Linked DNA regions of Homo sapiens: region 1 is linked to region 2. The links come from fine-mapping of genetic effects on gene expression. A gene starts in region 2. The other region holds a variant in brackets. All regions are shown on one strand. Distances are between the middles of the regions.

Region 1 (4,402 bases), 46 kb before region 2:
AAAACTTCAGTTCCTTATCGCCATTACTGCAGTTTCCTTCCATTCTATCCTACTTCAAGAAAAAAGCAACAAACAAAACACATTACCCCAACCATCCCCAACCCACCTCCCCACTGGGAAAAAATAAACCAGAAACAAAATCCATTCGTTCCCAAGAACAAAGAGCCTACAAACAAAGTAAAACCTACCTTTCAGGTAGAGGGTGGGGGAGGAGAGGAGGGTGGGCACAGCATTCAGGTAAAAAACTTGTATATGAGGAAAAATGCAAATAATCATTAAGTACAATACATAACGTTATTCGTGTAACTCTAGCACCTGAAGAAGATGCCCTAGACCAGTGCTGTCCAATAGAAATAGAATTTAAGCTACAAATGTGAGCCGTTTATGTAGACTTACATGTTCAGTCATATTAAAAGAAGTAAAAAAAAAAAGGTAAAATTATTTTTAACATTATATTTCTTTAATTCAATTGATTCTATGCTATTCTTTTCAATGTATATTCTATATAAAAAATTAAGATATGTTACATTCTTTCTTCTCATGCTGGGTCTTCAAAATTCAGCATATATTATATATTTATGGCCTACCTCAATTTGGACTAGATACATTTCAAGTGCATGCTAGCAACCAAGCTACCTTATTGAACACTGCAGCCCTAGACAAAGTACTCACTTAATTCCCTTTTCTAAAAACACTAAAGCTAATGGCTACTAGAATTAAAGCCTCTAAACATCTCATTGGCTATGCCCTAGAAGCTATATCCCAGCATCCCCTACTGATGGTCCTGGAGACACAGCCCTAGGTAACATGTTCCACAAATGAACGTAATTAACTGATTAAGAACATAATTAACTGACTTGCCATTCAGGCAGGAACAAAATGATGAGCCCTGGTGGAGAAAAGGCTATGTTCTCCCTAGTGCCAATTCTGTCCATCTATCCATTCAACATTTATTGAGACCCTACTACTTGCCAGAATTAATTCTATATGCCCCCAAGGAGCTTACAGTCTTTTGAGGGGTTGATAGACATAAACAATCAAATAAGAAATAAACAAGTTCATTTCAAATAATTTTTCTATGAAGAAAATAAAACAAAAATATGATAGTGGAAGCGATTCCTTTAGAGAAAGGAGAAGACTGACTTCTGTGAGGTGGTACTGAAGCTGAGAATGAAATAACAGGGACAAGTGCGAAGTATACCACTAGGGCAAAGATCTAAGGCAGGAAAAAGGCTGGCTTATTTGAGAAACACAGAGAATGTCAATATGGTTAGAGAGTAGACTAGCAGATGTAGGTAGCCAGGGGCTAGACCATGTAAAGCCTAGTGAATAGAGTAAGTTTGGATGTTATTCTAAGAAAAATCAATTAAGGGTTTTAAGGGGAGTGAGATAATCTAATTTAGATTTAAAAGATCCCTTTGTGTGTGGGAAATGGTTAAAATGCATGTGTGTGTGAGAGGGGGATAAGCATGGAAGCAGGGAGACCAGTTGGGAGGATGCTGGAGTAGTCAAGGTGAGAGTTCATGTGGCTGGGAGTAGGGTGGAGGTGGTGGAAGCAATGAAGTCAGATTTAGAGTATAGTTTCAATTTATTAGCAAGTCCTGTCACCTCTACTTTCGAAATCAGATTATATTTTGAGTCTAACAGGACTTGCTGGTAAGTTGGATGTGGGATTAAACTATTAAGACTTTTGGCTTGAGCTTGTAAGTAAAATGGTGGTGACATTTACTGAGTCTGGAACAGAAGGAAAACCTGCTTCTCCTCCTATATTTATAATGGTGTTAATGGAATTACTAACCAGCTTGACACCTGAGAATCATCCAAGACACTGCCCTATCCAAACAGTCACCAAATCTCATTAATTTTACCTCCCCAGAGTTTCTTAAATTTGTCCCCACTTTCTCATCCCCACTGACTTGCTCAGGTCTTTTGATCAAATTACTTACCAAGACTATTGAAATGGCCTTAATAATCTCTAGGTTTAAACTCCAATCCAGTATCAATACTACAAATTACTCCTCTGCTTAAAATCATCCAGCAATCTTTTTGAAGAGCAGTTTAGCAGTATATATCAGAGTTTAAAATAGACATGCCCTTTGTTTGGCTATTTCTTTTTTATGATTCTATTCTGTAGAAATACTCGAAGAGAATGAAAATGAGTAATTGATTATAGCATGTAATAGTGAAAAACTGGACACTA[TCTAA/A]ATGCCCGTCAATAAAGGAATTTTTACGTAAACCATTATACAACTATAAAATTCTATTTTGTTTTTTAAAATGAAGATCTAAACATACTGAATGGAAAGCTCTCCAAGATATTTCAAAACCAAATGGCAATGTGTATGATATGATTCCATTTGTGTAAAAAGCACTGTAGTATGTATGTGTGGTTTCTAAAGGCCTAGAAAAGGTCTGGGAGGATACACATTAAACTATCAACAATGATTACCTCAGTGTAGTAAGATAGTGGTGGGCTGGGGAGTTTTCATTTTTTACCATATATATTTCCTATTGAATGAATTTTTAAATAATTAAAACATTAACAAAAAACTGTACAACCATCCTGTATGCCCCAATGATTCAAGGCATTTTCAGACCTGGCACCAGCCTTCTTTCCAGACTAATTGCTCAGACTTATTTACATTAGGTAGGCCATTATGCACTTCTGCATTATGGGAAACGTGGGTTGACTGGTTGACTGTTGAAACTGGATTGTGTACTAGGCCTACCTGCTTTGCAACTAGAATAGGAAAGGCCACCTCTGATACTCAGAAGGTCATGAAGCTCTTTCTGAGGAGAAGCTAAGGTACTTGTTCCTGCCCTGAGGACATGCCAAAATAGGTTCATTCCTTTAGCTCTTCAAAGGAAGAAGTAAAATTTCATAACTCTTTCCCCTTCCCAACCCATTTTTGCATTAGATGTTTTAAAAGTACCTGTACTTATCTTGTTCACTGTTTAGTTTGCTTCTTTTGTAGCAGAAAGAGCCAACAAAATTGACAGTAAATTTACTATAGTGCCAGTTCTTTTCTGGAAATCTTCCTCATTTTTAGATATTAAAAAAAATAAAGTGATAGTAGCTCAGCTCTGCTAGAGATGACATAAAGTAGCTTTAGTGGAAACAAAACAAAGGTGAAATTACACCAATTTCTAAATTCTAAAGATTTTCGTATTTGTTTTTTGATTGTTATTTTCTACTTTTAAACTCAAGAATAAAGAGAATAAGAAAGTACATATGTAAGTCTTTCAATTGTGGTCCTGGCTGGAAACCTAGCCATCAAGCCAACTGCTAGAAAAGAAAATGAACTGTTCTTCCCAAACTTGTTTCCATTCAGTGTCCACTTGTCTCAGATAATACCAACAAGTTATGAAATGAATGAATTATTTCTCCCTCACTCATTCAGATGACTAGAAACGAAGTAACTTGGCAAGATGAGGAAGGAGAAACCAAATTAACTCATGCTTTTGCTGTGCTTTGCTACAACCTCAATTCTAAACCTGCCACCTACATTAATCCCTTAATTAAAATATCCTTCACCTGGTTTGAATTACCCTAGCATATGAGAAGACCAAAAAAGAGCCCAAATAGCCAAAGCAATCCTAAGCAAAAAGAACAAAGCCAGAGGCATCACACTACCCGACTTCAAACTATACTGCGACGCTACAGTAACCAAAATAGCATGGTACTGGTATAAAAACAGACACATAGACTAATGGAACAGAAAATAGGAAACCCAGAAATAAAGCCACACACCTACAATCATCCAATCTTTGACAAAATCAACAAAAACAGGCAATGGAGAAAGGACTCCCTATTCAATATAGTGGTGCTAGGATAACTGGCTAGCCATATGCAGAAGACTGAAACTGGACCCCCTCCTTTCATCATATACAAAAATCAACTGAAGATGAATGAAAGACTTAAATATAAAACCTAAAACTACAAAAACCCTAGAAGAAAACCTAGGAAATACCATTCTGGACATAGGCCCTGGCAAACATTTTATAATGAAGATTCAAAAACAATTGCAATAAAAACAAAAACTGACAAATGGGACCTAATTAAACTTAAGAGCTTCTGCACAGCGAATGAAACTATCAATAGAGTAAACAACCTACAGAACAGGAGAAAATATTTGCAAAGTGCATTCAACAAAGGTCTAATATCCAGAATCGATAAGGAACTTAAATCAACAAGCAAAAAATAAACAACTCCATTTAAAAAATGGGCAAAAAAATATAAACAGACATTTCTCAAAAGAAGACATACATGTGGCCAACAAGCATACGAAAAAATGTTCAGTCTCACTAATCATTAGAGAAATGCAAATCGAAACCACAATGAGACATCTCACACTAGTCAGAATGGCTATTATTAAAAAGTCAAAAAATAGCAGATGCTGGCAAG
Region 2 (4,402 bases):
AAATCTAAACTAAGAAGGCAAAAAAATTGCAAGAAGAGAACAGAATGAATGAAAGTTATTACAGAAAAAAAAATCAAAAGGACCCAACAAAATATATTGGATACAGAATATGAGAGTAGGAAAAATCTTAAATAGCTCTCTGTTTTGAGCCAGCGTAGCTAGGAAAAGTACTGCCATGAGAAATAGGTGACCCCTGACGAGGAGCAGGAAGAAATGAGGAAATCACTTTTAGAAGTGTCTTTGAGGAAATACCATAGGATATTCCTCTGAATATGCCCAGCAGGTAGCTGAACAAATGAAACTAGAGCTCAGGAATGAAATCAAGCTGTGCCACTTTGTTCAAAATCTCTGCATTCTAAAATCCTCCTTCCTGACCACTACCTTCTCTCCTCCATCACTTCCCACTCACGCTGAATCTCCTTACTCAATCTCTAGAGGTCTTAGGTAAGAGTTCTCAAACTGGCAGCCCCCCACGCATTGTATCACCCAAAGAATGTTTCAAAAATTTTCTGAATTAGTTGTCAACATTTAAAAATTGTAAGAGTTCACATAAATTTCAACTTCCAGCTCCTCTTGCAAAATTGGAAATATCTGAGGAAAAAGTGAGCCCATGTTCCCACATGGAAACAATAAGCTGAAGCCGAATAGCAGCTGGCGTTATTAGGGAAGGAGTATGGCTGGTCTCTGGAGACTTCTGAGCGTGGGACCTCCTAGGACCTTTGTTTCTTCCTTTGATCTCCATAGTCCATGAGTCAGATCCCAGCCTCACCTCCCTACCCCAGCCCAGACCCACGTGTATTTTAATCATATCAACATTTAAGGACTACTGTGCACCAGGCACGGAGCCAGAGAAACAAAGTTGAAAAGAAGGCACCCTCTGCCCTCTGTCTACCCTGTCAGCCTCATAACCAGCCACACCAGCATATTCTCAATTCCATGAGCCACATGTGCTTTCCCTGCATCCCAAGGCTTTGCACATGCTGTTCCTTCTGCCCCTACAGCTAAGCCCAAACCCCCTTCTCCTAATCATCCTTCAAGTCTCAAATGATATTTCCTCATGGAGGCCTTCCCAGACTCCCCATTAAGTAGCATACAATCATCCCCTTTCACGTGTTCCATGGCTCTTTCCCCCTTCTTGTACTTTCTCCATGTCTATCTCTAAGACCAGACTTCATCTTGTTCACCAATTAATTTCCAGCATCTAGCATAGCCAGACAAGTACTTCCATAAAACTTTCCATATGTCTCCTAGGCACGTTTTGTTCCAACATGGCTCATCTTGCCAGCTTCCCCCTGCTTCACTTCCTCCACTCTTGTTTCCAAGGTAGAATCGGACAGGCTACTGGGCACTCTCTTCTTAAATTTAAAACAGTTTTAAGCGGGAGGTGCGTGGATCAAATTCAGGATGTTAAAAGATTGTACTGACTGCAGAGTGGAGAAAAAAACAAGAAAAGTGGATGCGAAGAGACCAGTTAGATTACTTCAGTAAATCGCCACTCCAGTTCTAGAACAACTTGGGATTCTACACATCTAACTGCGGTGTTGTGTTACCACATTTCATGGCACTTTCCACGCCTTCACACACACAGCGGCAAACTACCGCGAAACCTCCGGACCCAGCTGCCCTCCACGAGACGCGTTCGGTGATATGCACTCCTCCCCAATGCGAGACTCCGAGACCCCAAACTCCCTCGGACTCTCCCAGTTGGGTCCAGGGCCACACTCGGCGCAGCCAAGCCCGCCCTACCCGAGGTCGCACACGGGCCGCTCCGGGGTCAATGGTTCTTTGGAGGACCAAGAGGACCAAGGCAACAGGGTAATTCATTAGGGGAGGATAGTTAAGAGGGAGCGAAAGGAAGAAGAAATCATGAAATGCAATGCCCGGCCAGGGAACTCCGAACAAGGAACAGGGAACAAGGTTTACCAAGGCGAATCCTGGAACACTCCCACTACAGCTGCCCCCAGCGCTTCAACTACCGGCTTAAATGAACCACGCCCCTTGCGCGACAAAGAAAACGCACTATTCCTGCGACCAGCTGGGGAAGCACCCCGCTACCTTTTACCAGACCAGCCAATGAGTTCAGTGAAACCTTCGATCAAGACAGTCACGCTCCGAGTGGCCAATGAAATTGAAGGCTCTGCCCTCCATGCCCAACTCTGATTGGCTTACAATCCAGGAACAGGCGTTAACCCAGGGAAGGCAGTGGCAAGATGGCGTCCCTGGATCGGGTGAAGGTACTGGTGTTGGGAGACTCAGGTGAGCGGCTTACCCTACCTCTGGGGCTCCAGACACTTTTGAGTTACCCAGTAACCCTCCCCTTAGCTTCCTTCCCTCAACTTCCTGGCTCCTCGGCCCGTGGCTGAAGTCCCTCCCAGGGCCTGAAGACTACACTTCCCAGGGGACTTTGCTCCGTGTGACGACGCGGTGGCGGCGGCGTCGTCGCGCGGGTGGGGGTCGCGGAGCCCGGGTCTTTTGCCTTCGCGGCTTTCCGCATCGGTCTCCCAGGCGACCCCAGCCTAGAGTGTATTGTCAATTCTTTTATTAAAAAAAAAAAAAAAAAAAGCAGGCATTGAGTATTGTATGGGGTTCTATGTTAAGGGTACAGAAGTTAGTAGGACCGTGCCTTCAAGAGATTTTGTTCATTAAGGAAGTCAAACGTGCACTGAGAAACGTGCACTGAGAAACGTGCACTGGCAAGCGCTTCGCATGTATTAACTCATTTAATTCTGAGACAGTCCTGTTATCCCATTTTACAGATGAGAGTAGTGAGGCAGAGAGATGTAAATGACAGAATCCTTTTGAACGCGGAGTCCACGAACTTAAACGCTAAGTTATAATTATGCAGTGACATATTGGGTAGTGGTCCTGTTTTATTCTTAACTGAGCTTAATTTCCTGGTTCTCGTTTGATCTTCATTGAAAACCTATTATGTCCTAGACTGTACAATAGAGAAATTAAAGTAAGAGTTTTATTCTGAAGCAGCTAGGATTTAACGCTGAGCCCAATTTAATCCTAGTGTTAAATATATATATATTTTTTTAATCTCAGTGGATGCAAAAAGAATTCTTTTGACACCTGGGACATTTGAGAACTACAGCTGGCGTCTGGATTTCCAGCTCCCACCTCACTGCCCTTATCTTTTCTTCCATAATCCCCAATTCAGCTCTCCTTAGTAACTTCAATAAATGCTGACCTTGCATTTTATAGAAGCGCTCCTCTGGAGTTGGCCTAAGAGCATGTGTTGTGAGCAAAGACGTTGTGCTAGATGCTTGGAGGTGGAGAGGCTTGAAAACTTAATAGAAACTAAATAAAATTGTGGGCAGCAAATATAGGTTAAGAATGTTTTCACATTGCCCTGAGGATTATTTGCATTATGAAATATTTTACAGAGAGCATTATTTAATATTCCCCTAAGAAAGTTGCCTTTTGAAACTTAATGAACATAATCACAATTTATGTCGACTTCATTTCTATCAGGTAGCTTGAAGTGGTGCCGAAGTTAATTTAATAAAATCACTCAGTTTTACAGATAAAGTAATTGTGGCCTAAAGGGACTTGGCAAGAGTATCACTGAGTAGAATTTACAATCCAGAACTAACAGACTTCTTCATGATACGTTAAGTGGGTGTTTTGTGTCCTTTATAATTCCATTTTCTATTGTATCTAACAATCCCTTCATATTACAAACTGTTGCAACTAGTCAATTTATTTTCTTTCCAACAGGCACTGTATTAGGTTCTGGGGTTATAACTGTGGAATTAATGCGTCATATAACAGGGATAGAATTAGCAGCTACATTAAATGTGGAAAAGTAATCAGGCAATTGATAAGCTTCCCTACTGCCCGCCTCCCCTGTTATGGTTTAGTTGTAAAGCAGAAGACACAGCTGTGATGGCCAGGAAAGTGATTGATGTTGTCACACATTCACTAATGTTAACCTTTATGTGCAAAGTTAGTTATTGTCTTTTTATCTTTTTAAAAGGTAATTTTGTCAGTCTCCTTTTAACTGCGATTTAAAAGTACACAGTCTGACAGTTTAGAATGCACTTTTTACACTTCCTCAGCCTTTCTTTCAAACCCGAAAGTTTATTTTTAAATAAAGGCCATTTCCCTTATAAAATTTTGAGGGTTTCACAAATATATAAAGAAATGACTTAGCCAGACAAGGTGGCTCTAGCCTATAATCCCAGCACTTTGGGAGGTTGAGGCGGGTGGATTGCTTGAGCTCAGTTCAAGACTAGCCTGGGCAACATGGCAAGACCCTCTCTCTACCAAAAACAGTACAGAAAGTTAGCCGGGCATGGTGGTGCACGCCTGTAGTCCCGCTACTCAGGAGGCTGAGGTGAGAAGATCACTTGAGCCCAGGAATTTGAGGCTGCAGTGAGCTAGGATCGTGCCACTG

The links. PIP is the estimated chance that this variant, and not a neighbour inherited with it, causes the effect.
Region 1: its variant is the best candidate, but not a certain one, in a credible set for the expression of GTF2E1 in whole blood (INTERVAL, PIP 0.63).

What each region holds. Positions count from the first base shown.
Region 1 is chr3:120,786,061-120,790,462 of GRCh38, reverse strand. No RefSeq gene overlaps it. Among named protein-coding and RNA genes, the nearest start is that of GTF2E1, 46 kb to the right of the region's middle. The variant TCTAA/A (reference allele first, on the strand shown) is at 2,201.
Region 2 is chr3:120,740,316-120,744,717 of GRCh38, reverse strand. It overlaps GTF2E1 (general transcription factor IIE subunit 1), which reads right to left and starts at 1,974. Exons shown (of 5, transcript NM_005513.3): 1 at 1,924-1,974. It overlaps RABL3 (RAB, member of RAS oncogene family like 3), which reads left to right and starts at 2,202. Exons shown (of 8, transcript NM_173825.5): 1 at 2,202-2,256. The coding sequence starts at 2,211. RefSeq lists enhancers at 1,922-2,041, 1,922-2,216, 1,664-2,302, 2,182-2,471, 2,303-2,941.